Linked DNA regions of Homo sapiens. The protein of the gene in region 1 interacts with the protein of each later gene in a biochemical or structural test. Each region holds a gene or a part of one and is shown in the gene's direction. Other genes may lie near its edges. The genes, in order: ADGRA1, HTRA3, GIPC2 and FRMPD3.

Region 1 (8,101 bases):
GCGGGGGGGCGGCCACCCGTATGGGGACTCCCAGGCTGGAAAAGTTGTGGAATGGCGAGCTGGTGACCGGGCTTCCGGGCTCAGTGCCGGGGTGGGAGGCTCTGTGGAGTGGGGGCCGGGGACAGGCCGCGTGTCTGGGCACCTCTGCTCCCCGCGTGCTGGGTGCTGATCATACTAATGAGTTGCAGGCATATGGCAATGTGGAATCATTTAATCAATGGAGGCGACGTCCCTCCCGCAAAGCTGGCATCCGTGCCCTGTGAAAACCTGGTCTGTGCCTGGGCTGGGGTCCCTGCCACCCCAAGCCCCTCCACCCTGGTCACCGGCCTCCTCCACGCCACCCTGCCGGCCCCTTCCCATTAGAAAGTTGATGAAAGGCAGTGCGGACAGACGTAGGTGGGCTTCAGCAGTGGAGGCTGTGGCGGAGAGAAGGCGGCCGCGCACACGGCAGGCACGGGAAGGGTGTTTCAGCGGGAAGGGGCTCGTGGCTGGCAGCTGGCTGGATCGGCTAGCCGAGCCCATCGTGGGTCCCTCCCTGAGGCACCAGCAAGCTTTTGCTGCAGTTGCTGAATGTCTGGGTTCCGGAAGGGCTGACAGCTGAGTGAACAATGCATTGTGTGTGCTGGTAAGGGACAGCTGACAGGCGGTGAGGACCCAGGGCACGTGCAGAGAATGCCAATGGCCTCTAGAATGTGCGGCCGCCACAGACGCCGGCTGGCGTGCTTCGGAGCAGACCCAGTGTTCGCTGCATAAGGAGCCATCGGTCTGAGTCACTTGCTCATTTTCTTCTTGTTCCGTTCGAAATGTCCAAGCAAGAGAGATGCCTTTGCCAACATTCAGTATCGTCTTCCAGTGGCTGCTTCACCTCTGAGGCTGGCTGAGGTCTCCGCACTTACCTTTCAGACACCTGACAAGGTTGCGTCTCCAGCACCAGCAGCACCTCAGGGGGCAGCAGGCCAGCCCCAGGGCTCCTGCCTGCCCCCAGGCTCCCACCAGCCTCAGGAACCATCGCTGTTGCCCCGCAGGTACCACACCCAGCGCAGCCCCAGGCCTCCCAGTTGGCAGGATCTGTGGCTTTTCAGCCTCAAATTGAGACCCTTATTTGCAAAATGGAAAACTGTCATTGACAGAGGACAGTGAACGGAGAAGGGCTTCTGAAGGTGGGGGTGCTGCCGCAGCCCGGGGGTCCCTCTCATCCCCTTCCTCGCCTCCTCCTCTCTAACCCTTGGCCCTTCTGCGAACAACTGTGCGGGGGCCTCCCCAATCCAAGAAGGGCACCACCCCTCGCAGGCTGAGCCTGTTCGTGCACTCTCCTCTCAGCTCCTGGCTCCTGGTGGAGCTTCCTGCTACCACCTCCTCGGCCCGGGGCCACCCGGTCCCAGCCGGCCTGGCAGCCCAGAGCTCCTGCTCACCCAAGACTGTGAAAGCCTGCTGAGCTCGATCTGCCTGGAGAGTGTGGCATTTCAGCAGCTCACTGTTTTTATTCACAACAAGTAACATTTGCACCTGAGAAAATCTCTGAAAGTGTGAGGAGTTGCCCTCCCGTGCTGCATCAGTCTGGTGCAGCATTTTTCTGCATGTGTCTCCAAGTTCACAGCGTAGTGTGACAGCGTAATTCACAGCACGTGTCTCCAAGTTCACAGCGTAGATACCTGGGCAGGCTCACCCCATGGCCATGGGGTCTTGAGAAGGAAGCCTGGAGGCCGTGGCCAGGGCAGGGTGGCCCTGACTCTGCCTGCCCCACTGCTGTGCTCTGGGGGGCTCCTGACGCCTGCCAGGGGCAAGCTGCCTGCTGAGCTCCCAAGTGTAAGGGCATAGGGCACAGGTCACAGGTCAGATTCTTTGGTGGCATCGCTCCTGGCCAGGCACAAAGGCATGAGTCAGCCCTGGATTCTGAGCTGCTGTCCAGCAGCTTGGCTGGGCCAGGCCGTCCTCTCAAAAGGCTGGTTTGTCGGCCCATGGTGCTCTACAGGATGGACAGTTTGCTCCCCTCTGGAGGACCTGCAGGCCACCTGTCCAGTGGTTAAAGCTGGGGCACCTCCTTCTGCAAGCTGTGTCTCCGTCACCACTGTTAACGAGCAAAAGCAAATGTGAACTTGCCTGTCTCCGCAAGGGGTGCTATCAGGACTTACGTTCCAGCAGGCTCCGAAATGAAATAGGTGTCACTTCGCACCCTGTAACTTGCAGTCCTCACACTTAACTCAGAGAACAGTTGTTCTCGAGGGCCTGAATTTGAGGCTGAAAAGCCACAGATCCTGCCAACTGGGAGGCCTGGGGCTGCGCTGGGTGTGGCACCTATGGGGAAACACCTGCAGGGTTGGATGGTGTGGCTGGTGCAGTGTGGTTGCCGTGGGATGGGCGGTGTGGCTGGTGCAGTGTGGTTGCCGTGGGATGGGCGGTGTGGCTGGTGCAGTGTGGTTGCTGTGGGATATGGTGTGGTGTGAAGATGTCGTCTGGCCCTCTGTGGCTACTTTCATTCCACAATTGCAATATTTAGGTGCAGCTGGGAGCATGAGCTCATCGTCCCTTCAGGGTTCAGGCCCTGTGCCGATGGCACCATTGCCTGGTTAGCATCTGTGTTTCTATGTGGTCATCTGTGAGCTGCCAGCTTTCTGTGAGTAGGGTGGAGGCTCTCAAAGGGGACTCAACCGAGCCCCTTCCAGCTCTCAATTCAGGGCTGACTCTTGGTCATCAGAGGCGCTGTTTGCTGCACCCTGCATGTTCTCAATGCCGGGATTGAGTGCGAGGACAAGCTTGGGCTGGGGGACCCCAGAGACCTGGTGTGTGTAGGGAGCTCCTTGGGTCTAACACTTCCTTCCCCAGCTTCTGAAAGGACAGAGTGCCTTCGAAACCTCCAAGGAGACGAGGCGGGTAGCCAAAGGGTGAAGACCTCCAACCGGAGGGTGACAGGCCCAAGGTCAAGGCCAGCCTCCTGGCGGTGCCCCCAGGAAGGGGAGTCTCGGAGGCCGAGAGTGAGGAGGAGCCTGCAGCTGCTCCCCGAGGCCGGACCCATGTGAAGTCCGCCCTGAAGAGAACCAGGATCGGGTCCTGGCCCAAAGGCAGGTTGTGGGAGACTCGGAGCTCTGAGTTGTTAGGAAGTACGTGAGCCCACATGAGGTGGGTTTATCTCTGCTCAAATTTTACCCCTTGGCCTCTGCCAGGAATGGGCATTCAGGAGGTGGGAGGGGCCCGGGACGCAGGGCCTCTCACAGGGCGTAAGGATGGTCGGTCGCGCGTACGAACATTTCAGAGCTATACTGAGTTCTTTTCAGCTAGTTGTTTTTTAGTCTAATATCTAAATTACTAAAAATGGCTACAGTCTACTTCCTTCATCTCACAGATGGAGAGTTTGTCATCCCACCTCACATCTTCCCGAAAATTAAGAACTTTAAGCAAGTAACTACCAGTCTAGAAAGAAAGCGTCTATGATATTTTAACACTTTTTTCCCAAATCTCTTCAAAACTTCACTAGCCCATCTACTCCTCCAAGAAGAAAATCATAACGCACCTTACAAACGTAATGCCGACTATGGGTCATCTGTGTTCTGGAGGAATAAATTCTTCTCCTCTACCTTCCACCTTTCCCCTGGAACACATCCATGAAAAGTTGACAGATCAGTAGATGCAATTATTATTTAAAAGGCAGACAAGGGAATACATCAGGCTCTCAGGAAATCAGTGTTCATTGGCACAGAACCAGGAAGTAAAACAGGGAGAACCAGAAAAAACAAGAAAGAGAAACAGGAAGAACCAGGAAGAAGCACCTGAATGAAGAAGGAGAAATAGGGAGGGAGGAAGGAAGGAAGGAAGGAAGGAAGGAAGGAAGGAAGGAAGGAAGAGAGGGAGGGAAGGGAGGGAAGGAAGGAAGAGAGGGAGGGAGGGAAGGAAGGAAGGAAGGAAGGAAGGAAGGAAGGAAGGAAATGAAGGGAGCCTGAACCTGGAAGAAGGAGAAGGAGGACTGGAAGCACCTGGGAGGATATGTGTTCCTTCCTCAGCCAGTTGGAGCTGCAGACCTGGCCCCGGACACCTCACCGTGCAGGAAAGAAGGTTCCTCAGCCAGTCGGAGCTGCAGACCTGGCCCCGGACACCTCACTGTGTAGGAAAGAAGGTTCCTCAGCCAGTTGGAGCTGCAGACCTAGCCCCGGACACCTCACTGTGCAGGAAAGAAGGTTCCTCAGCCAGTCGGAGCTGCAGACCTGGCCCCGGACACCTCACCCGCAGGGAGGAAGATTCCTTCAGGCAGCTGGCATTCCCCAGGTTTGAAGAGGTCACTTTCCCACCTCTCACTGCTGCAGAAAGGTTAAGTTTTGATCAGAAAATTCACACATAACTTGACCGACTGCTTCCTTCTCATCTTTCCTCCTTTGTTTTTGTCTTTAACACCCTGACCCACTTGATTTGCAGAACACACCAAAGAGGAGACCTCCAATTAAAATGAGGGAAAACAGAGGAGGAAGTTATGACTAAAGAAAGAGGAGACACAAATAAGCCAGAGCACGAGTCCCACGCACGCCGGGCTCACACGCTGGCGGGACTGTTGGCTCCGAGGCCGGCAGATGGGAGATGGATGCCCGCCTTCCCCAGGGAAGCAGAGACATCTCTGGGTGCCTTCTAGAGCAACCTGGGCCATCCTGCGGGCACAGAACCAAGCTGGCATTCCGGCCATTTCATCTGGGCCAAGAAGGTCGGGGCCACCTTCATCCGCCCCTTCCCAGCCCCCTTGGGTCCTCGGAACCGTGTTCTTCACCCCCCAGGAGCCTGGCTGCATTGCGAGCCGAGGGTCCAGGAACTCTGCTTCTGACTTGCTGGCTCACCCCTGTCAGCCAGGCTCTGTTCAGCCACAGATCAGACCAGCAGGCCTGGGGAACACTTGCAAAGAAGAATCGGTGCATGTGCAAACTTTAAAAGACAACACACGTCTCCACTGCACATGACCCACTTTGAGTTTTAAATGTCACCTCTGAAAATGTAGACAGGCACTGTTGATAACTGTAATTTGGAGACAAGAAAAAGAAAAGAAACCAAACCAAATCACACATCTGTTTCTTATAAAACATCTTGTTGACACACGGATCATTGCACAGGTGAGGACCATGGCCCAGGCCTCCAGCTCACGCGGCAGCTCCAGGCGTCCACGCCTGCCCTTGCCGCCTCAGTCCGTGTGAAACCTCACAGCTTGGCCTTCAGACGAGAAGCCCCACACAAGGCGGCGTGGCCCTCGCTGTCACTGGAGCTTGGGCGGCCTCCTCCCAGCGCAGCCTGCACCTTGCACTCGCGCCCTGAGACGTTTGCCTCTTGCATGAAAAGCAGCTCTGATTGGGCTTAACATGAAGGGGTTTGTGTTTGTGACTAAAAGCCACAAACGGGAGGCTAAGTCTCCTTCTGGCCCTGAGGATGGAGGCAGCGGGACAGGACGCGGCTCGCAGGCACCAGACATCAGGGCACACACTTTCCTGGCTGCCATCTGCGCCTCCGCCCACAGTGGCACCGCCCCTCGCCCCCGTAGCTGAGCAGGAGTCTGAGTCCTGCAGGAAGGCGCGGCGGCCACAGCAGCCCCAGGGAGGCCGTGAGAGGACGCGTGAGGGCCCGGGGCAGACCACCCCAGGCTCTTCAACACAACAGATGAGAACGAAGTCCTTGTTCCAGGCGACTCACTGAGGAAATGCTCCGATAGACTCGGAGAGGGCTGGACACAGAGTGGACCCCACTCTCTTGGCTTCTCTCGCGGATCTGGGTTTGCAACAATGGCTCGTCGGAACTGTGTAGAGCGTTCAGGTTTATTTTAGACCCTGGGTCAATGTCTTGGAGGAAAAGCCATTGACTCTCGTGGAAGAATCCTGGGGACAAGAATCTGGGGCGTCGCTCACGCCCTGTTAAAACTTCAGTTCTTCTACCCACATGGGGCATTCTCCACCTCCCAGCAGCAGATAACTCACTGGATAACCTGATGTCGGGATTTGGCCGGGAAAACATGCTTTTCTGTGACTTTGGAGCTGTTTGCACGTGGCAGGAAGTGGGCGCCTACTAAACCAGCAAACGTGGGACAACCAGCCTGGCACCGCCCGAGCCACGCCAGAGCCCCCATGCATCGTCTCCTGATGGCAAGCACTCCAGTAGCCAGAACACCAAGGAGGGACGTGCGAATGTCCACAGTTGGCCGGGCTGTCCCTGGGCTGATCTCTGGGGGAAGCAGGAGCCCCAGCTGGAGCTCGGACCGGACACTCACCCCACGACTGTTGCAGGAGGCAACTGACGCTTCGGGCTCTGGGGCACTCAGGAGAATCTGGACAGAGGCCCACCCAGCTCACCTCTTTACAGAGGGGCAGAGTGAGGGTGGGGCTCTCCTGGGCCCTGACTCCCCCGAAAACCCTCAGGGGCCTCTGTCCAGGGTGGGCCTCAGAGCCAAGCCTGAACCACAGGGCGCTGTCTCTCTGTGGGGTCCTGGTGTCCAGGAAGAAATGGGCAGATTCTAAACACTCCCCGGAAAGCAAAGTGTCTGCTGTCACTCCAGCTCTGCGGCCCCACAGCGACGCCCGCTCCTCTCCCAGGTGCCTTCGCCCTCGCACAGGTCCAGGCTCCTCGTCCCGGGATGCAGGGCCCCTCCGGTGCCCGCCTGGCCAGTGCTGTTCGAACCCTGGGGCAGGGGCCCTATTTCGGGCTTTGACTGTCAGCCAGTCCCTTGGCTCCCCAGAGCACCCTCTGTCCACGGTGGACACTCTCTAGCCAGCCAGGGCCTCGTCTTGGCTGGACGGACAAGAAGTGTGGCCTCAGGAGGGAAGCAGGAGCTCTCGGGCCCGCTGGCTGCCTGCATCCCGACACAGGTGACACTGCCTCTGCCCATGGCCCTTCCTGCACAGGAGGGTCCCTCTCCACTTCCCGCCTCACTCAGCCGGAGCCATCCCAGAGGCCCGGCCGGCTGCCTCCTCCTGCCCCGATGCCCAGGGCAGCATCCATGGCGTGGTCAGAGTGGCTGGAGCCTGGCACAGGTGCAGCGATCACCAGGGGGCTGGGGAGGGGCCAGGCGGCTGCAGCCCTCACCCCTGCTGGCACCCACCCACAGGGTTCTTACCGGAACATGGCACCCACCCTGCTCGCCTGCCTGAGGTTCATAACTAAACCCTACACAGTGGGGCCCTGAAGCACAGACATGTTTCCCACAGTCTGGAGGCTGGAAGCCTGAGACAGAGCTGAGTGCAGGCTGGTGCCCCGAGGCCCCCTCCTGGGCCTGTGCACGCATGTTTCTGGGCTGATGCCCCTGAAGCCCCCTCCCCAGCCTGTGCACCCCTCTGTGCTTCCCCGGTGAGCTCACCTCACTCACCTGATGAAGAAAAGATGAAGCTCCATCAGCTCCAAGCCTTTCCAGCTGGGTCGATTTTCCCCCAGTCTACTCTGCCACAGAGAACACACATTCCCCTTTGAACTCTGACCCTGAACCCTTTTCTTGGGCCGAGAAGCAGGTGGAGTTTGCGGCCTCCGGTCCAGGTCTGTTGGTGCCGAACAGTCTCCACTCTTTCTCCACCTCTCGCAGAAGCTCGTACAGAATCCTCCCGGAAGATGTTGACAAGCAGGGTTTCGATGAGTGTGGGGCTCCCAGTGCAGGGCTGGGGCCATCCCATGGTTTCCCTGCCTCTCTGTAAGGCCCATCCAGATCCCACCTGGCCACCCGCAGGCCACGGGAAGAGAGGAGGCTGGAGGCAGGCATCAGTCGGCCGATACATGGCCCCAGGAGCCAGCCTCAGAGCCACACAAGGATGCCTTTGGCCAGCAGAGCCAGTGGAGGGCGAGGACAGACAGCACTCCGTGGCCACGTGGGGCCCCTCCCGTGCACTCCCTGAGCATCCACAGACGCAGCCTGACCGTACCTCCCCAGGCAGCCCCCCTTCCCTGAGACCCCACACGAAAATGCCTGGAGCGGCTGCAGGGGAAGCCGAGCCCCAAGGGTAGGCTCAGGCGACGGCGCCGCCCACACAGACCCACCAGCCAGTCACACACGTCTCCTTTGCTTTATCCTCAGGATCTGAAGACAGTGCTCTCCCTGCCCCGCTACCCAGGGGAGTTCCTGCACCCCGTGGTGTACGCGTGCACGGCCGTCATGCTGCTC
Region 2 (7,765 bases), on another chromosome or scaffold:
CCGCGTCAGAGCTCAGGGGCCCAGCAGCCCAGGCGCTTGAGGGGGTCCAGGGGCTGGGCTTTGGCAAGCAGGGGGTGGACACGTTGGGGTCCAGAGAGCTTTCCGGCCCTGGGTGTTGGAGTGTCTGAGTCCAGGATGGAGACACACAGGAAGGCAGCCTTTTCTAATCACCTGTGGGAGGAGAGGTGCTGCCATTCCTCCTTCTGCTGTGTTCACACTGGGCCCAGGTCCCTGTGTGCCGTGGCTGCCTGCACAGGCAATGCGGGCTCAGCCTGTGGCTTTCCATGTGCTGTGCCCCTGCCCGTGGGCTCTTCCAGGCCTGGGTCAGGGCACCTCTGCACTCACCCACCCCACGCCGGGCTCCTCTCTGCCTCATCCCTGGTGATGCTGTGCTGTCTCTGGTCGGTCACTGACTTGACCCTTGCCCCCAGCTGAACCACTGTGTCTCCAGCAGCTGTCACAGGTGGGCACACAGGAGGCACCCTGCACGAGTGGCTTGAATAAGGCTGTGAGCAGCGGCAGATTCGGTACAACTGGGGCTGCTGCGGGGCTGCCTGGAGGAGGCAGGATTAGGGCCGGGCCCAGGACCAACCAGAGCATCTTGGTAGGGAGAGTAGAGAGAGGTCGTGCAGGGGGAGGTGTAGAGAGGTGGATGATGAGCAGAAACTGGAGTTGGTGGCCCGACAAAGGCCACACGGTAGGAGAGGTAATATGGTCCCACCTGGGGGCTGTGCCCGTGCCCTGGCGCTTCTCCTCAGGCGAGGCACATGGGGCGCCAGCCTCAGGCCCCAGGGCACACAGGGGAGCAGCAGACCGGCTGAGTCCTCCCTCCTGGAGGGAGGAGGGCCTGGGCCTGGGGGTTGCCCTGGGATCCCTCTGGGTCGTGGAAATTGTGGGTCTGAGCGCATCTTGTGAGAGCTCTGAACCAGCTCCAAACCTCACCAGGGAAGCAGGCTTTGTGGCTGGTGTCCTTCCTCTCTACTTGGGTGCTAGAAAATGAACTCAAGTTCCCAGGGGCAGGGAGGAGAAGCAGACAGGCCTGGGCTGCCCACTCGGGCCGCACGGCAGCTTCACCTCACCAAGGGAGCCGCCTGCTTTGTAGGTGTCGAGCAGGGCAGCGCATCCCTCATGGAAGCAAACGTGGGCAGAGAGAGCCCTGGGCCCACAGCAGGCCCTGCCCCTGGGGTGTTTGTTAATGTGACCTCTGAACCTGAGACCCCGCTCTGCCGCAGTGGTTTGATCTATGAGGAGCCTCGCGGTGGCCGGCGTCTCCCAGCCAGGCTCTAGCCACCCCAGACAGGTGGCCTTTGATTCAGGCTGACTGAAGTGGACGAGGGCTGGTGTGGTTGGTGCCTGCGGGCCGGTTGAGAGGCAGACATCGGAAGTCTGGGAGACCCAACACCAGAGCTCGAGCCAACCCCCTAGGTCCCAGCTCAGGCTAAAGGGCTCTTCAGGGCCTTGGGGAGCTGCAGGGCAGAGGTGGGGGCACCCAGGGAAAGGAGGCCTGCGGCCTGCGTTCAGATCCTGGTTCTCCCCTCCCAGCCGTGAGTCCTTGGGCAGGGGGGTTCTTCTTACAGAGCCTCAGTGTCCCCACCTTTAAAATAGAGGAAAAGTTTCCTTCCCCTGGCTGCCCCTGGAGAGTTGGGTGAATGAATTGGGATGTGCCTGGGGATTGTGTTTGCCCTGTGATGATTCCTAGAGCACGGACCGCGGCCCGGGCCCTGCCCCCACAGTGGCATCCACCATGGTACCTTCGTGCCTTTGGACGATCCAGAAAACCAGATTTTCCCTCGGTCCCCATGCCCGGCCACTTCCCAGAGATCAAGAGAAATGTGGGCTGCAAAGCTGGAAAGCTGGACGTTATGGACTGAGCCCTCTTTGCTCCCCATTGCCAAGGTGGCTGGGTGGGTGGGTAGCCCCCCGGGCAGGGACTCGAAGTTTGCAGTCCTCCACACTCAGTTCCCACAGATGTGGTAGGAGGGCATATTCAGTCCCATTTTTCAGATGAGGAGTTGAGGCCCAGAGAACGTAAGTAATCTGTCTGAGGCCACACAGCTAGAAAGCAGCCAGGCCCAGCCGAACCCCTGGTGTGTGCAGCCCCCAGCCCAGTTGCTCATTGCGGGGCTCGGGAGCCACGAGCGAGGCTGAGCAGCATGTGTTCCAGATGGTGGGAACTGGAGAGAGCCCGGCACAGGCCCGTGCAGGGAACCCCGAGGGCTGTGGGCCCCGTGCCACTGCATGCCTCAGGCCTGTGGTCCTGGCAGCCACAGCCCCTACTGCTGACGGCAGCAGGAATCTGAGCCCGGGAAGGGTCCAGGGAAGTTCGTGAACCATCTAGCAAGTCGGGCTGGGGTGTGGCCAAGTTAGACACAGATGTAGGGCCCTGTGGACTCAGAAATTGGCAGCTCTTTTGGCCCAGAGGGGCCACACTGTGTCCGGGCCTGGGTAGCTCAGAAGGGTCACCTGGGGGTCTTCCACTACACCCCCGCCTGGACACTGCTGTAGCCCCAGGGCTCGGAGGGACCAGCTGGAGCCCATGAGGAGAGGGCCAGTTCTCTCCTGTAAGGGTATTGCTGTAGCATGAGGGAACAGACAAGGCCCAGGGGGACTAACCCGAGATCCAGCCCTGGCCTCACTCCCGTGTGGCTCACGGCAATATCCTAACCTCTCTCTGAGCCTCCTGCCCAGCCTAGCAGGGTCCAGTGAGGGGGGTGAGGAAGCCCAGCACGTGGAAGCCTTTTTAACCATTCTCGGGGTGAGCGAGCCCCTTCCCAAATGCCTGGTGTCACTGCACTGCTGTGTGGTAGGGGGTCCCCAACGGGCTCAGTGTGGGCTGAGGCTGGCTCTGAACTGGGACAGGGGTCTCAGGAAGAGCCTCCTCCTTCTGCCCACTGGGCATAGGCCTCTGGGAGCTGGCAGCATCGTGATCTCACTGATGCACCTGGCCCTTCCCGCCAGCGCAGGTCTCCACCAGCTGAGCAGCCCGCGCTACAAGTTCAACTTCATTGCTGACGTGGTGGAGAAGATCGCACCAGCCGTGGTCCACATAGAGCTCTTCCTGAGGTGGGTGAATACCCCTCGCCCCTCTCTGCCTCCTGGTGTCCCCTGGTACACCCGCCAGCTGCTGGGGCCCAAACCAGGCTTGATTCTGCAGCCTGGGCCACAGAAACTGGAGTGGCCTGGGGTCAGGCTGACCTCAGTCACATCTGCTGGCTGCCTGTGTGCCCCTGGGGAAGGACATCCCCGCTGAAGTGACTCCGCACCTGCTGGAGCTGTAGGCACCAAGAAGGTGCACAGCTGTGGGTCTTTGTCCCTTCATGCTGCTGCCCATGCTATTGGATACATGCAATGTGTTGGTCGTCCTGAGGGGCCGTGCAGTAAAGCAGACACAGACAGAACCCAGCGGAGGAGATGCCAGGAGACAGCAGGTGTGTGTGCAAGGAGCAGAGGCATGGCAGGCAGAGAGCAGGGCTCGGGGCAGTGGGAACCGGGGGCTCGGGAGGCCTCACAAGCTAAGCCTGAAGTAGGCACCCCGGGAGCTGGGCCAGTGGATGCAGGGCAGTGGGGGCAGCTCGCAAGCACCGAGGCCCGTGTGGCCGGAGCGGGGAGGAATGAGGGATGGGTGAGTGAACGCACGAATCAGTGCATGGATGAGTGAGGGGAGGAATGAGTTAGTGAAGGAAGTGGCAGAATGAATGAGTGAGGGAGGGAATGAGTGAGTGTCCAATGGATGAGTAAAAGAATGAATGAATGAGTGGAGTCGGTCAATAGGGAAGCGGGATGTCCCAGCCCCGTAGAGGAAGTGGTGTGTACCGTGTGGCTTCACCCCCGAGCAAGGCCTCTCCTTGCAGATGCACAGGCAAAGCCTCCTCCCCTTCTTCCCACAGGGCCTGCCCCGGTCCCTGCCACCATCCCCAGCCTCTCCTACTTCCCCCATCACAGAGACCCTCTGAGCTGGTTTGGGGGAGCCCTGCCTTCAGAACCTCCCGCTGTGCAAGCTGCCCAATGTCTGATCGCTCACACCGAATCCTGAGGGCTCATCCCAGATTGACTTATATCCCGCAGAAGCAGACTGAATGACTCTTCTGAAGTTTAGAGTGTTTCTCCCATCCACCTTTGCTGGCCCTTTGGTCCCTGGGTGTGCACAGAGCCGGCAAACAGCCTGATGAGGAGGCCCCGGAACCAAGCCTCATTCCACCCTGATAGGGATCAGACGGCGGGTCCAGGCGGACACGGAGCCGGCAATGAGCAGTCACCAGAGGCCGCAGGCCAGGGCTCCAGGGACTTGCTTGTTTTCACGGTACTTTCCCTGAGGCCTCCAGCCTCCCTGTGACGAGGCTCCACTGCCCTAGGCCCGGCCCTGGGGACTGAGCATCTGGTGGCTCATGGGGAGATCCCAGGAGTGATTCCTGCTCCAGCACCGCCTCCCTGCTGGCTGGCTCGGCGCTTGTCTGGTCCAAGCCCCTGTCACTAGGCGTCACGGCCCCTCTGCCCTCCCCATCCCGGGCTCTCCAGCAGAGGTCGTGCTCCTTGAACAGGGGTGTGAGAGCGCGTGACGGGCATATAGCACCTCAGCATCACATCCTCCACACCTGCTGGGAGCTCCCTGGGCTGTGGGCTGTGTAGCCCATGTTTCTCAAAACAGCCCTGGAGGCACCACCCATGCAGGACCCACAGCCCTGGTTGCCACCCTGTCCGGTGCCCCGTGCTGATGGACCTCTCACTGCCCCCTTGGCAGCACACTGACCCCTCACTGCCCTTCCCTCGAGCCCCGGGCCCTGAGACATGTCATTGAGGAAATTATAACTGGATGCACTAAGTGGCACGTTGCTGGCCTTCCAGGAGGTAGGGATGGGGGCAGCATCTTTCTGGAAGGCCCCAGCCACCAGGCTCTGAACCAACTAATTACTGACTCCAGCCCGGCTGGGAGGCCGTTTCTGCCCTCAGAGCCTCCAGTGACTGATGCTCTGAGTGGGTGGGTGAGACCCAGCAAAGATGAGACAGATGCTTTTCCAGCACAGGCCTCCCGGCTGTGACCCCTGACCTGAGGTCTGAGTGTGGGCATGGAGGCCAGTGGGCAGCCGCGGGCATTTTCTGCAGACCCCGCAGGTGCCTGGCCCTGTGAGGCACCCTGGGGCTTCCGCAGGCAAAACAGGTGCAGTTCCTACTCTGGGGCACACACGGAGTGGGTGTGGCAGAAGCTGGCTGCGGATGTGAGTGGACAGATGCTGGGGTCACCGTGTGGGGTGGCCAAGTGGCCAGATGCCCAGGCTGCCTGGGGCAGACCCCTGCTTTGCCCTTTGCCTGCCCGCCTGACCTAGGCAAGTAGTTCAGCGTCTCGGGACTCAGTTTTCCCACCATAAAGACCTGAGAGTTAGGGACGACAGTAGTTTCTTGTGGCTGCCATAACAAAGTACCACAGACTGCATGGCTTAAAATGACAGAGATGTTTGCTCCCATGGTTCTGGAGGCTGGAAGTCCTAATCAAGGTGTCAAGGTCCTAATCAAGCAGGGCTGCTTTCTTCTGGGGGATGTTGGGGGAGTGTCCCAGGCCCCTCTACTGGCTCTAGTGTTTTCCGCAGTCCTTGGTACGCCTCGGCCCTTAGACCCCTCTCTCTGCTCTGTCTCCATCATCTCATGGCCTTCCCCTCTGTGAGACTGGACTTCCCTCCCTTAAAGACAACACAGACACACTCTGATGTCACCGTAACTTCAGGACACCTGCAAAGACCCTGTTTCCAAATAAAGTCACATTCACAGTCACATGGGGTTAGGACTTGGCCGTATCTCTTGGCAGGGATACAGCTCACCACAGCACCCCCCTTGCAGGGTGCCCATGAGCATTCAATGGCCTGCCTGCCTCAGAGGGAGCACAGGGTGGCATTCGCTGCCATCTCTGGTCCTGTGGGTCACAGCGAAGCTCCTGTACTTTGCAGAGACTGTCACCTCCCTGCACGTGCCAGACGCTCCCATCCCTCCATGCTTTGTCTCTTGCTCTCACCTGCCTGCACGTGCCAGACGTTTCCATCCCTCCATACTTTGTCCCTCGCACATTTTCCTTGCTCATCTCTACTAAGCAGCCTCAGGGAGTGAGTACCTGCTCTGGGCTGGGCCCCACGCTGGGGTCCCGAAGGTTCCCACCCTGGAGAAGGTCCCAGGCTGTGTCTGGCATTCAGCCTCCTCCCCTGCTGGATGTGGGGCTGTGGTTTCTACTCAGAGAGCTCTGGTGAGAACTGGGGATTGTTGCCCATCGGCAGACACCAATGCAAACCCAGGCCAGCTCCACACCGTTCACAGAGGGCAGGGCCCAGGCTGGCCTCATCTGTGCCTCTGCACCCCTGCCCTCGGGGTGTCCAGGGCTCGGGTCCTGCATCTGCCTGCTGCCAGCACTGCCACATTTGGGGCTTTAGGCAGCTAGCCTGGGGGTGAGGGTAGAGGGAGGTGGGAATAAGCCTTCTCAGCCCTCCCAGCACTCACCCTGTCGGGATGATCAGGAATCTGCCCCAGCCTCTGGGGAGCCTCCCTTCCTGGGTACCTGCTGCAGCCCTGCAGGATGCTGTGTGTGCAATGGGGCTTTTCCCCTAGGGCCAATTATTGTCCTGTTTGTTGAGAGGCGTTTTAGAGCCCAGGCATCACCACTCGGCGGAGGAGGTGTTGTTGTCCCATTTCCCAAATGGGGAGACCAAGGCTCAGAGAGCTTCACTGACCTGCCCACGGTCAGGCAGATAATAAGTGGGTCCTGGACTTGGGATTAGCATCCTGGTCTGTCTGGCTCCGTGCTCCGTAGTCAGGATGGCGAGTGCAAGCTGGGAGTCATCTGACATGTCGCAGGCAGCCTGTCTCATCTCAGCAAATTGCAGCGAGAGGTGATCATCATCACCTCTTTATGGCTGTGAATGGGTGCAGGCGCCGGTGACTTGGCCAGGTCACAGGGCCAGGATTCAAATGGGAGCTTGAGGGACTCCAGACCTGTGTTCTGTCAGCCACACACTGGCTCTGCTCCTCGCTGACCAGCCCCACCACTGCGCCTGACTCCCCCGCGTCCTAGCCCCACCCTAAATGCCCGCCTGTGTCTCCCTGGCTGCAGACACCCGCTGTTTGGCCGCAACGTGCCCCTGTCCAGCGGTTCTGGCTTCATCATGTCAGAGGCCGGCCTGATCATCACCAATGCCCACGTGGTGTCCAGCAACAGTGCTGCCCCGGGCAGGCAGCAGCTCAAGGTGCAGCTACAGAATGGGGACTCCTATGAGGCCACCATCAAAGACATCGACAAGAAGTCGGACATTGCCACCATCAAGATCCATCCCAAGGTGGGTGGGCGTGGGTGGAGGGGCGGAAGCACCTGGGGCTGGGCATGGTGGCCTCTTCCCAGACGCCGGAACCCAGAGGCAAGCTAGCCCCACCTTCCATCAGCCAGGGGGAGGAAACTGGGCCCAGGGAGGACTGGCAGCTGGCCCAGGGTCACGGCTTGGAAAAGACCTAGAACCCAGGTCTTTGGACTCCTTGTCCTGCGCTCCCTGAGCCGCTAGGTGCAGGGCAGAGCCAGGAAGCATGTGGCCCACAGTGGGTGGGCTGTGGTCCCATATCACACCCCACGGAGGCTCTTCACTGTCTTACCTGGGCCCACTACTGGGGATGCACCTGCCCCATGGGATGGCATCTGGGTTTGGGCGTGGAGGCCAGGGGGCTGCCGTGGGGAACACTTGGGACAGGGACCCCATCCCTCCACCTTCACGTCTGTACCTCCCACCAGCTGACCCAGAAG
Region 3 (3,500 bases), on another chromosome or scaffold:
CTGGATTAGAAAAAGTTAATTATATGCAGAATAAAGTATTGGTCATCATAGCATAGTACGCATAATATTTCAGTGGTTCACTCTGAAACAGAAGTAACTCACTAAAATGAAATGCACACCAAGGAGATTCCATTTTCATAGCCCATTTCCCCAGCAAGCAATTACCTCAGCAATAATGATGTAAACAACTTTTTTTGGTTGGTTTTTGTTTTTTGAGATGGTGTCTTGTTCTGTCGCCCAGGCTGGAGTGCAGTGGCACGATCTTGGCTGACTGAAACCTCCACCTCCTGGGTTCAAGTGATTGTCCTGCCTCAGCTTGCCTAATAGCTGGGATTATGCACCACCATGCCTGGCTAATTTTTGTGTTTTTAGTAGAGACGGGGTTTCACCATGTTGGCCAGGCTGGTCTTGAATTGATATCCTGACCTCAGGTGATCTGCCCGCCTCGGCCTCCCAAAGTGCGTGAACCACCACGCCCAGCCCTGTGATGTAAATAACTTTTGAGATGTCAGTGGGGACAAAAACATTTGCCCCCCTTAATGGGATTGAATAGATAGTTAACTCAGAAGTCCTGCCTTTTTTCTAGAGTGGTGGCTGTAAGGATATAAATAGCACTACATGAAGAGCTAGCCACTCTTTATTGAGGAGAAAGGGAAAAGACTTGATGTCAAGTGGAGCAGATAATCAGGGCCCATAATGTGCCCACAGCTGTGCTAGGCCTGTAAGCCTACAGTGTGTTCACTCCATCCTCACCAGAATCTTTTCATTTTACAATTTAGTGAAGTGAGACTCTGAGAAGTTAAATAGGCTGGTATGTGGCTGAGCCAGGATTTGAATTCTGGTTTCCTGGTTCTAAGTCTATTACATAGCAGCTGTGAGATTCTTGGTAGCTGCATTCAAATTCCAAATACGAACCCAGAAAAACCTCTTTTTTTTTTTTTTTTTTTTTGAGATGGAGTCTAGCTCTGTCGCCCAGGTTGAAGTGCAACGGTGTGATCGTGGCTCACTGCAACCTCCGCCTTCTGTGTTCAAGTGATCCTCCTGCCTCAGCCTCCTGAATAGCTGGGATTACAGGCACACGCCATCATGCCTGGATAATTTTTGTGTTTTTGTAGAGATGGGGTTTCACCATGTTGGCCAGGCTGGTCTCAAACTCCTGACCTCAGGTGATCCGCCCACCTCGGCCTCCCAAAGTGAGCTGGGATTACCGACGTGAGCTACTGCACCTGGCCGGTTCCAAGTCTATTACATAGCAGCTGTGAGATTCTTGGTAGCTGCATTCAAATTCTAAACACTAACCTGGAAAAACGTCTTTTGTAAACAAATTTTTTTTTTCAATAAAAGCCTCAGACTTAACCACAAAAATATTTATTGCCTCAAAAAGATGTTGATGTGAGACTGACAGTTGTGGACTTCAGCTAGTGTTTTGTGGTCCCTGAAGGAATAAGCTAATGAAGGCTGTGAATCAGTTAAGATTTGTTATTAAGTTGAGACAGATGGCCAGTTATGCAAAAATCCCTCATATCTGATGCCTTTTTTCAAAACAATTAAATGAACAATTCAGTAAAAAGAAAAAAAACCCTGTAAATTAATCTCATCTAAAGAACAATTAACTCCTACATAAATGCAAAGACTCTTCTTGAGAAAGTTTAATACATACCATCTTTTTTTTTTTTTCTTTTTTTTGTGACGGGAGTCTCGCTCTGTCGCCCAGGCTGGAGTGCAGTGGTGCTATCTCAGCTCACTACAAGCTCCGCCTCCTGGGTTCATGCCATTGTCCTGCCTCAACCTCCTGAGTAGCTAGGACTACAGGTGCCTGCCACCATGCCCGGCTAATTTTTTGTATTTTTAGTAGAGGCAGGGTTTCACTGTGTTAGCCAGGATTGTCTCGATCTCCTGACCTTGTGATCTGCCCGCCTCAGCCTCCCAAAGTGCTGAGATTACAGGCGTGAGCCACCGTGTCCGGCCAATACATACCATCTTTTAAAATATCCAGGTTACATGAAACTCTCGAGCTATGGTCATACATTTTGTTGAAGGGGCATTTTGAATATTTGACTACTGTAATTGTTTGGCAAGTAGTTTTTACCATGATATATTTTCCTAATTCTCTATTATGTGGAAATATTGTAGGAAAAAATAATGAATGTGAAAACTTAAGAAAAGACGTATAATAAAAAAAAGAACCCCACTTTGCTCAATACATTCATTTTGTAAAATGTAAAAAAAAAAAGAAATGATGTCATCATTATTGATCCTTGGACATTAAAAGAATAACAAAGAAATATTATTAACAAAAAAAAGATAAATTTTATAGTTAGAAATTTTACATGTCCAGAAACTGGAAATTCAGATGCAGTTTCTCTGCAGAATTCAGAAATTACTTCCTTTTACTTGTTTAGATTAGTTTGCGTGTGATATTAGATACCAAATAGTTCATTGAATAATAAATGAGTAATTCAGTGACTTATTCTCTCCCCATACATAAAGCAGTCAAAGAAAGCAGAGTACTTGAGAAGCAGAAAAGGCAAGAAGTGTTATTCTTTTTTTTTTGAAATGGAGTCTCACTCTGTTGCCAGGCTGGAGTGCAGTGGTGTGATCTCGGCTCACTGCAACCTCTGCCTCCCGGGTTCAAGTGATTCTCCTGCCTCAGCCTCCTGAGTAGCTGGGACTACAGGTGCATGCCACCATGCCCAGCTAATTTTTGTATTTTTAGTAGAGACGGGGTTTTGCCATGTTGGCCTGTCTTGAACTCCTGACCTCAGGTGATCTGCCTGCCTCGGCCTCCCAAAGTGCTAGGATTACAGGCATGAGCCACCGCACCTGGCGTAGAATTGTGATTTTTAAGGTGAGATTTTATCCTCACAAGCATGCTGTTATTTCTCTTAAACAGACAAACCTTCTTTTGACACCTGTTCCCATCCCCTGTATTACCACCTCATTTCTCCTTTTTAGCAAAACTCTTCAAAAGTTGCTGTCTCTGAGATACAATTTGTATCTCATTTTCTGCTCTAAACCTTTCATGGCTTCCCCTCTCACTTGGAACAAACCAAAATACTATGATGGGCTACGGGCTCTGTTACCTCTTCAGAATCGTTGTTCCTTCTGCTCCAGCCAGACTGGTCTCCTTGAATGCTGGAGCCTTAAGACTTTTGCATTGGTTTTTGCCTCCGCCAGAACCTCTTCCTACAGAATGCCCTTCCTTAAGTCTGTTCAAATGTCATCTTCTTGGTGAGGCTAGCACTGATCATCTCTAGGTGCAACACTCCCTGTTCCCTTCTCTGCTTAATTTTTCTCCGTAGCATACTATCCTATGTATATTTAACTTATTTTGTTTATGGTCTGCCCCCTTGCCCCAATAGAAGCTCCACAAAGGCAAGGATTTTTGTCTTTGTTTACTGATGTGGCCCTCAAGGGCCTAGACTTTGCCTGAAACATATTATAGTTGGAGTTTAAAAAATAGTTGTTGAATAAAAGGATCCTCACCAATTCAGTAGTTA
Region 4 (8,101 bases), on another chromosome or scaffold:
TTTGAGACAGAGTCTCGCTCTGTCACCCAGGCTAGAGTGCAGTGCCATGATCTCGGCTCACTGCAACCTCCACCTCCCAGGTTCAAACAATTCTCCTGCCTCAGCTTCCCAAGTAGCTGGGACTATAGACATGCACCACCACGCCCAGCTAATTTTTGTATTTCTTAATAGAGACAGGGTTTCACCATGTTGGCCAGGCTGGTCTCAAACTCCTGACCTCAAGTGATTCACCTGCCTCAACCTCCCAAAGTGCTGTGACTTTAGGCATGAGCCACAGCATCTGGCCTACATAGCACTATAGCAATTTTTTTTTTTTTTTGAGATGGAGTTTCGCTCTCGGCTCATTGGAACCTCCACCTCCTGAGTTCAAGTGATTCTCCTGCCTCAGCCTCTCAAGTAGCTGGGATTACAGGCGCCCGCCACCATGCCCAGCTAATTTTTGTATTTTTAGTAGAGACGGGGTTTCACCATGTTGTCCAGGCTGGTCTTGAACTCCTGATCTCAGGTAATCCACCAGTCTCCGCCTCCCAAAGTGCTGTGATTACAGGCATGAGCCATTGCACCTGGCCTTATATAGCATTTTAATTGTATTAGGCATTATAAGTAATCTAGAGGTGATAGAGGTATACAGGAGGATTTGCATAGGTTACATGCAAATACCACAGCATTTTATATAAAGGACTTAAGCATCCACAAATTTCAGTATCCATGGGGGTCCTGGAAGAAATCCTCCATGGATACCAAGGGAAAACTGTAGTTGTAGTAGTTTTTTGTAATAGAATCCACTGAATTTTCTACATAGATGATCATTGATGATGTATTCCTTTTCCACTCTCTCCTATATTATAGTGATATCACTGTGGCTTCCTAGTCCCTTAGTCCATACTGGTTCCACTTTAACAAAATGGGAAACTGGTCTAACCAAGGCTGACTCATTGATAGCTGGGGCTGTGACCCTCAGGGTTTGGGGGTTGTCATACCCTTGGCCAGTAGTTCCTGGAGACCTCCTCTAGGATAGCATAGGGAAGATTGACTCATCAACATTTTTGTCCTTCAGACACCAAGAAGAAGAATGCCTCCCCCATCCCTGCAATTCAGCTCTCACCCTGGGCTTCTGGGCCAGGGCCCTGTGGAGAGTCCCTCCCAGTATCTTTCTCCCCTTGTTTCCATCTGAGCTAGTAAAGGAGCCTTGTATGGCTTGGGGGTGAGTATAACCCCCATGAAAAAAAGTAGGAAAGTCTCTTATAAAAGGAGGAAAGAAAGGGAGTGGTGCCATGTCTCACTTTTGCAGTGAACTGGACTGTCTGCTTGTACCTTGCCATTGTGTGCCCCTGTCACTGAGAAGGCTATCTAGTATCTGCTGAATAAAGTGAACAGTGTCTATGAGACCTGAGCCTCCTCTGTTGTCTCTTCTCCAAGGGGAGCTCCTTCCTCTGTCCCTTGATCTAGCATGCCTTACTGATACTATGAGTATTGTCTGGGATGTAAGGGAGTAGATCAGGGGGTGGGGAAGGAATGTCTCCTTCAGCTGATAGGTTTGGACTGCCCTCTCTCACAGAGTCGGAATGATGTTATTCGAGAACGCTTTGGAATGGATCCCAAGCCAGAGATGCTTTTGGGCCTTGCTGCGCTCCACATCTATATCACTGTCTCAGCCACTCGACCTAGTCAGAAGATCTCGCTCAAGAATGTGGAGTGAGTTGTGCTGCGGCCCGTTGGGATGGGGGGCGAATAGTTGCGTAGGGAAAAGGTACACTGGTTGAGCTATGCTATGCTTTTCAGAAATGTAGGACATGGGATGGGAGTGAGAATTGGAGTCCCTCATATCTAGACTATGAAGCCCTAGAGCTACAGCTTCTACTAGGGAGCTGTGGCTAATGTTATTTTCCTATCCCTGTCCCTTTTTCTTTCTCCCAGTCTCTATTCCTCCATCTCTACCTCTCAGATTCAGTCAATTTCTGTCTTACCATCTTCTCTCTGTCCCACTTTGCCTCTCTCACTAATCTCTTACTTTTCTTCTGCTTTTAGGAAGGAGTGGGGCCTGGAACCCTTTCTTCCCCCCTCCCTCCTGCAGGTCATCAAAGAGAAGAACCTCCGGAAATCTCTCTCTCAGCAACTGAAGGCTCACCAAACACATCCTTCCTGCGGCACCAAGGTATCCAGAGTAGACCACTGGGCATGGTGCTCCAGGCACTACTGGCCACAGGGAGATCCTGGGTGGTTTCCCAGCAGAGTCTGGTCCTCTAGGGATCCTCACCACTGCTTTTGACTCAGGTGCACATACGGCTTGGCCAGGTGTGGGGCAGTTGTGGAGAGGAGTCTTCCCCAAGCCTGAGCATCCCAAAGAGACAGCTGAGTGACACATCACTGAGAGAGCTCAGGGTCCTCAAAGCAAAGGGGCCAAGATGCAGGAGATAATTCTCAGGTCCTTTTCACCAATTAGTCAGTGCCGACTGAGCATGTATCATGTGGAAAGCACTGGACCCTAGGGAGGCACATGTTTTCCATGGAAATGACTAGGCTGGTGTGGTGGCTCATGCCTGTAATCCCAGCGCTTTGGGAGGCCAAAGCAGGAAGATCACTTGAGCCCAGGAGTTTGAGACCAGTCTGGGCAACATAGTGAGACAGCGTCTTTACTTTTAAAAAAATAATTTAAAAAAAATGTAAAAAAAGGAAATGTACCTCTGTACCTCTAATTCATCAGTCCTAGGGTGTGGAATTCTGGGAGACAAAACCCCAGCCCAGGGGAAAGTGGGAGAGTTGGGGGCACAAGACCTGACCTGGAGAATGGGTCACTGGGTGGAATGGTGAGGGATCAGGTTACTGCCTCCACTTTCTAGTGCTCTGAGGGACTCCCACTGTCTGCTTTCCCAAGCCCCGCAGCAGCTTCTTAGCTTTGTAAGATTCAATCTGCCTGTGCTTCCTGCCCTAGAAGCAGGAGAGTGGTGAGACGCACTAGAATCAGCATGCAGATGTACATATGGGACGCAATCGCCCCATACATTCCTCCCATTCCAGATTTCTTGCATTACCAACTAGCTTCTCTTTTAAGATGCAAATTTCCCCGGAGAGTTAAGCCATTCCCACCTTGCTGTGAATATTTAATCAGATTGTTTTCTTCTCAACTGAGAGCATCAGTGCTCACCACCATCTCCTCAGGTAACATTTTTTTCGAGGCACCCCAGTGCTTGGGTTGGAAATATGAAGATGAAGAGGGCCTGGTCTTGGCCCCTGAGTCAGGCACAGTCTAATGGGGAAACACATTAGTCAGTCCCAACACAGTGCATTAGGCACAGGTGCTCTGGAAGCACAGAGGAAGAACACTAAGCCCAGCCTGAGGGAGGTGGAAAAGGCCAGAGCTGGGTCTTGAAAGACAGATAAGAGTTTGTCTAGATTAATCCGTGGGCATGGGTCATGGGAGGAAGTGTTTCCCAGGCAGAGAGATCCATCTGTACAAAGGCCCAGAGATATGAGAAACCATGGTGCAAGGACAGAAATGCAAATCATTCAGCCTAAGCAAGTACAGAAAATGCAAGCTGTGTGCAAGGGGTGAAGATAGGGGCAAGAGAAGAGGCCAGAGAGGTTGGCAGGAGCCAGTTCATGGAGGGCCTTGTGTGCCAAGGAAAGAGGTTGTACTTCATCCTCTAGGCAGCTGGGAGCCATTGAAGGGTTTAAAGCAGGGAGCTGATGTGATTAAACTTATGTTTTAGGATGCTCCCTCTAACAGTGTGGAGGCACTTGAGGGAAAGAGGGAAACAAGTGTCAGTCCTGAAGGTAACCTGGCTGTCACCCTGACACAGGTGGGAATGTCAAGGCAATGACTGGCTAGAGAAGAGGGATGGATAGATTGGAAAAGGAGCTAGGGGGTAAGTATCCAGATGATCTGGTAACTGCTGGCTCTCACATGAGGCGATTAAGGAGGAGTCCAGTGTGACTCACAGGTTTCTGGCTTGATTGCCCAGGGGATGCTGATATAGACCAGGAATGCCTGAAGTGCAGGCTTGGGACTTAGGAATGCTTAGTATGAACGGTATTGAGTGGGACCCCCAGCTGGGGAATGACCAGCATGTACATGACTCTAGGGGTCTGAAACATCTCAGGAGAGAGGTATGGATTAGGTGGGGCGTCAGTTAGTTGGAATTAAACCAAAAACAAAATGAGTAAGCTGGATACTTTAGGAATGAAGATCAGGAGGTAGGACAAGATTTTAGAAAGGGAGATGAGATACTAGAGGGAAGAGCTGTCCAAACTAGAACCTTGCTGCTGTTTTAAGAAGGGCATCTTCACATCTCCACAGTGTCACTTGCTGACTGGTGCCTGTCCTAGGATGTTGAGACTCCTCGTTGAGAACATGGGTTTGCTTTTCCTGTGCCCCTCAGGCTTCTCATATTTCTGGATGGGTTTTTCCACAGGGCTCTGCAATTCAGGCAAAGCTCCAGTATCTACGAATTCTGAATGAACTTCCTACCTTCACGGGCGTTTTGTTCAACACTGTAGGCCTGGTCAGTGGCGCAGGATTGGGGGATGTGGGGAGGGAGCCCCTTGTTGGCTCTTGTCCTTGGGTGTGGGGGCAGGAGGGGCAAATATTTCTAAAGGCCTTCGTTCCTCTTCCTCCTCCTTCTACCTCTTACCTCCCTGGCCCTGCCTCTGCCAAAATGATAAAGTGGGAGGAGATATTTGTTTTGAGTATCCCTCCATGACCTTTTTTTGTTCCTCTTCCTCGATTTGGGGGCGCAGCATACTTTTTCCATAAAGGGCCAGATAGTAAATATTTTAGGTTTTGCAGGCGGGCCATACTGGCAACTGTGGCAACTACTCAGCCCTGCTGTCAGATTATGAAAGCAGCCACAGACAATGCATAAACAAATGGGTGTGGCTGTTTACCAATAATTATTTATGGATACGAAAATTTGAATTTCATGTACTTTTCACATGTCACAAAACATGCCTCTTCTGATTTTTTTTCCCTACCATTAAAAAATCTAAAAACCATTCTTAGCTCCTGGGCCATAAAAAATAGGTGGTGGGTGGTATTTGGCCCATGGGCCATGGTTAGGCAACCCCTGCTCTATTTCATTTTTGTTCCACATACTCCCACAGTCCCCTACCCTAGGTTTCCTGAGTCCTTCTACTTCTCCCCCTGCTTGCTCAGCACCTTTGCTGCAGGAACAAGGCTCTGGGGCAGGGCACAGCTGGTCCCACCCTAAGACTGTGCCCCAGGCTAGTTTACCCTGGTGAAAGGAAATTCAAATCACCTTGCTAATTGGATCCAGGTGCTTGTCTTGCTCCCAGGAGCACATTGTCAGCTAGTGCGGCACATCGGTGGAAAGCCACTTATCAAAGTGCCTATAGACAGGCACAAGAGGTTCCTCAGGGTGATGCTAATACCAGGGAATGGGCCTCCAGACGACCCAAGCTTGATTGCTCCAAGGAATCTGTCAAGACCTCTTAAGGGAATCCAGTCCTTCAGGCCGAGAGGTAGCCATTTACATACTGGGATTTGCAGAACACTGAAAGCCCACTGTCCCCTCCCACCTCCTTCATACACTGTCAAATCTTTCTTCCACCCACCTACCACTGCTAAAATTTCTATTGGCCATACCTGCTGGAGTGCCCATTAAAAGGCAAATCTCTGCTTAACGAGGGAGGCTGCCATGAAGTACCCAATCAACCCTCAACACCTTAGGCAGAGTTACTGTGCCAGTTTAGTTTTTGGCCTGGGTGAGAAGTGCAAGTTTGAGTGGCTGTTGGTGGGGGGAGGGTAAAGACCAGACACAGGATGCCGCCTTCTCAGGCAGAGCACTGGGTGGGGGCCTCAAATGGCCTGCAGCAACAAATGGAAAGCCCCTGGGGCTTGGAAGGGGAGGGTGCTCCAAAGGCCCCCAAACAAACCTCACCTACTTCACGGTTTTGCTTGAGCTAGCCCTTCTGCCTGTGCACTTTACTCAACCTGCTGCTGAGGCTAAGGTGTTCATTTGGACCCATAATCTGGGGCTCTATCCCAGGAACCATTTTCTGTCCCAGACCATTTTCCCCTCCAGGTTGTCCTACTGTGGCACTGAGCCCCAGATATTTTCAGACCCCACCAGAGAGTCCAATGCATGTTTTCTATTTCCTCCTCCTGCCTCCTCTCCCCACCTCCTCCACCCTTCCTTCTGTGAACGTTGCCTGCCATTCTTGGGCACCAGGATGAGAAGCAGTCGGCCACCACGCTCCTGGTGGGACCCCGTCATGGCATCAGCCATGTTATTGACCTCAAAACCAACCTCACCACTGTGCTGTCCGAGTTCAGCAAGATCAGCAAGATCCAGCTGTTCCGGGAGAACCAGGGCGTGGCCCGGGTGGAGACCAGCATCATGGATGCCAAGGTAAGCCCTGCTTTGAGGGCCTCCTTCTGTTTAGGAACAGGCCTTGGGAATAGAGGAAGAAGTAAACTTGAGAAAGAGAATTGGAATCTGTTAGGTGAGGTTCAGTAATTCTGAAGTGGTTCAACCCTGGGACTCTTTGGGCTAATATGTCTCTTCTCAGCCCTCTGGGACATGCCATTTTGACCACATAATAAGGTCAGCCAGCACTAAGGAATGCTATGGAGAGTCAGATCAGCCTGAGACAGTTCTTCAGCACAGGGCAGGGAAACTGGAGAACTTGGAGCTACCCCCAGACCACTGCTTCCCATTTTTCTCATATCATAGCACACAGAAAATTATATTCACAGGCCGGCATGGTGGCTCATGCCTGTAATCTCATGCTTTGGGAGGCCAAGGTGGGCAGATAACTTGAGTCCAAGGGGTTTGAGACCAGCCTGGGCAACATGGTGAAACCCTGTCTCTACAAAAAATTACAAAACTTAGCTGGGCATGGTAGCACACACCTGTGGTCCCAGCTACTCAGGGGACTGAGGTGGGAGGACTGCCTGGGCCAGAGAGGTCAAGGCTGCAGTGAGCTGTGATTGCACCACTACACTCCAGCCTGGGCAACAGAGTGAAACCCTGTCTCAAAAAAAAAAAATAAAATAAATAAAAAGTAATAATAAAGAAAGAAAAGAAAAAAGAAAAAAAAATTATATTCATGTGGAACACTGGGGTAAATGTAGCAGCCCCAGAGACTCTGTCCACCCCAGGTTCTGCCTGGCTGCCCCAGAAACTATAGGAATGAATATCTTGGCCCATCTTCACCCATTCCATGTGCACAGCAGTTGGGGGGCCCTGCCATAGGGACACGCACCTTGAGTCATTGAAGAGAGGGTGTCTGAGCATGTGAACAGAACAGAGGGGGCCTGGGAAGAAGGGGAACATGCAGAGCCTTGTCCTTATTTCACCTCCCAGAGTCCAGCCCTTCCAGAACCTTAGATTCATTCCCATAGATCAACTCCTTCGGACTGGCAAGCAGCTGTCGCCTGTGCAAAGTCTGGCAGTCTTGGTCAGCCACCCCCTCCACAGCTCTCCTGTTTGAATACCAGTGACCACTGTGGGTGGGGGGCAGGCCTGCCTGCCAGCTGGCGGAAGCTCTTAGAGGAGTTGCAACTTTCCTTTCTTAAACGATTTCCCAGGGGGAGATATTGGTAGCAGATTAAGAGGTGGAGTGTTTGCTGTTTCTAAAAGAGAAAATTATTTGCTTTATTTTTGTCTTTGTGAAACCCAGAAAGCTTTAATGTGTTGATTTTTCCACCTGTGATTCACAGGATTCCCATTGGTTTAGGAACTGGCTTGGAGCCGATGTTTAATTGGCTTGCGGCTACCTCCTCAACCAATGGTTGCTGCACTCCTCAGATGTTGTTGGGTAAAAAGCCAAATGGACGGGCAGAGAAGGGGGCAGGGAAGACAAGGCATGCAGGGGAGATGTGGCTTCCTGAGAAATAAAAGGGGTTTAAAATAGAGACACAGCTTTCCAACTGAGTCTTCTATGTTCTGAGTGATTCTCAACATTGACTACACAATAGAATGTCCTTAAGTGCTTTAAGAAAAAAACAGATGCCTGGGTCCTACTCTCAGAGATTATGATTTCTTTGGTCATGGGTGAAACCCAGGCATCAGGATTTATTTATTTTTTTCAGTTTCCTAGGTGACTGTGTAATGCAACCACTTTGAGAATGCACAGGCTT

Evidence for each region.
Region 2: the proteins of ADGRA1 (region 1) and HTRA3 interact in a test that uses a peptide from one of them, tested with the Homo sapiens proteins (one large-scale study listed by IntAct).
Region 3: the proteins of ADGRA1 (region 1) and GIPC2 interact in a test that uses a peptide from one of them, tested with the Homo sapiens proteins (one large-scale study listed by IntAct).
Region 4: the proteins of ADGRA1 (region 1) and FRMPD3 interact in a test that uses a peptide from one of them, tested with the Homo sapiens proteins (one large-scale study listed by IntAct).

What each region holds. Positions count from the first base shown.
Region 1 is NC_000010.11:133,088,960-133,097,060, forward strand, and holds part of ADGRA1 (adhesion G protein-coupled receptor A1), read left to right. Parts: intron 1-8,014; coding exon 8,015-8,101.
Region 2 is NC_000004.12:8,279,474-8,287,238, forward strand, and holds part of HTRA3 (serine protease HTRA3 isoform 1 precursor), read left to right. Parts: intron 1-2,963; coding exon 2,964-3,063; intron 3,064-7,087; coding exon 7,088-7,310; intron 7,311-7,765. UniProt on the Homo sapiens protein: Serine protease that cleaves beta-casein/CSN2 as well as several extracellular matrix (ECM) proteoglycans such as decorin/DCN, biglycan/BGN and fibronectin/FN1.
Region 3 is NC_000001.11:78,048,966-78,052,465, forward strand, and holds part of GIPC2 (PDZ domain-containing protein GIPC2), read left to right. Parts: intron 1-3,500.
Region 4 is NC_000023.11:107,558,699-107,566,799, forward strand, and holds part of FRMPD3 (FERM and PDZ domain-containing protein 3), read left to right. Parts: intron 1-1,558; coding exon 1,559-1,695; intron 1,696-2,028; coding exon 2,029-2,155; intron 2,156-4,412; coding exon 4,413-4,502; intron 4,503-6,188; coding exon 6,189-6,368; intron 6,369-8,101.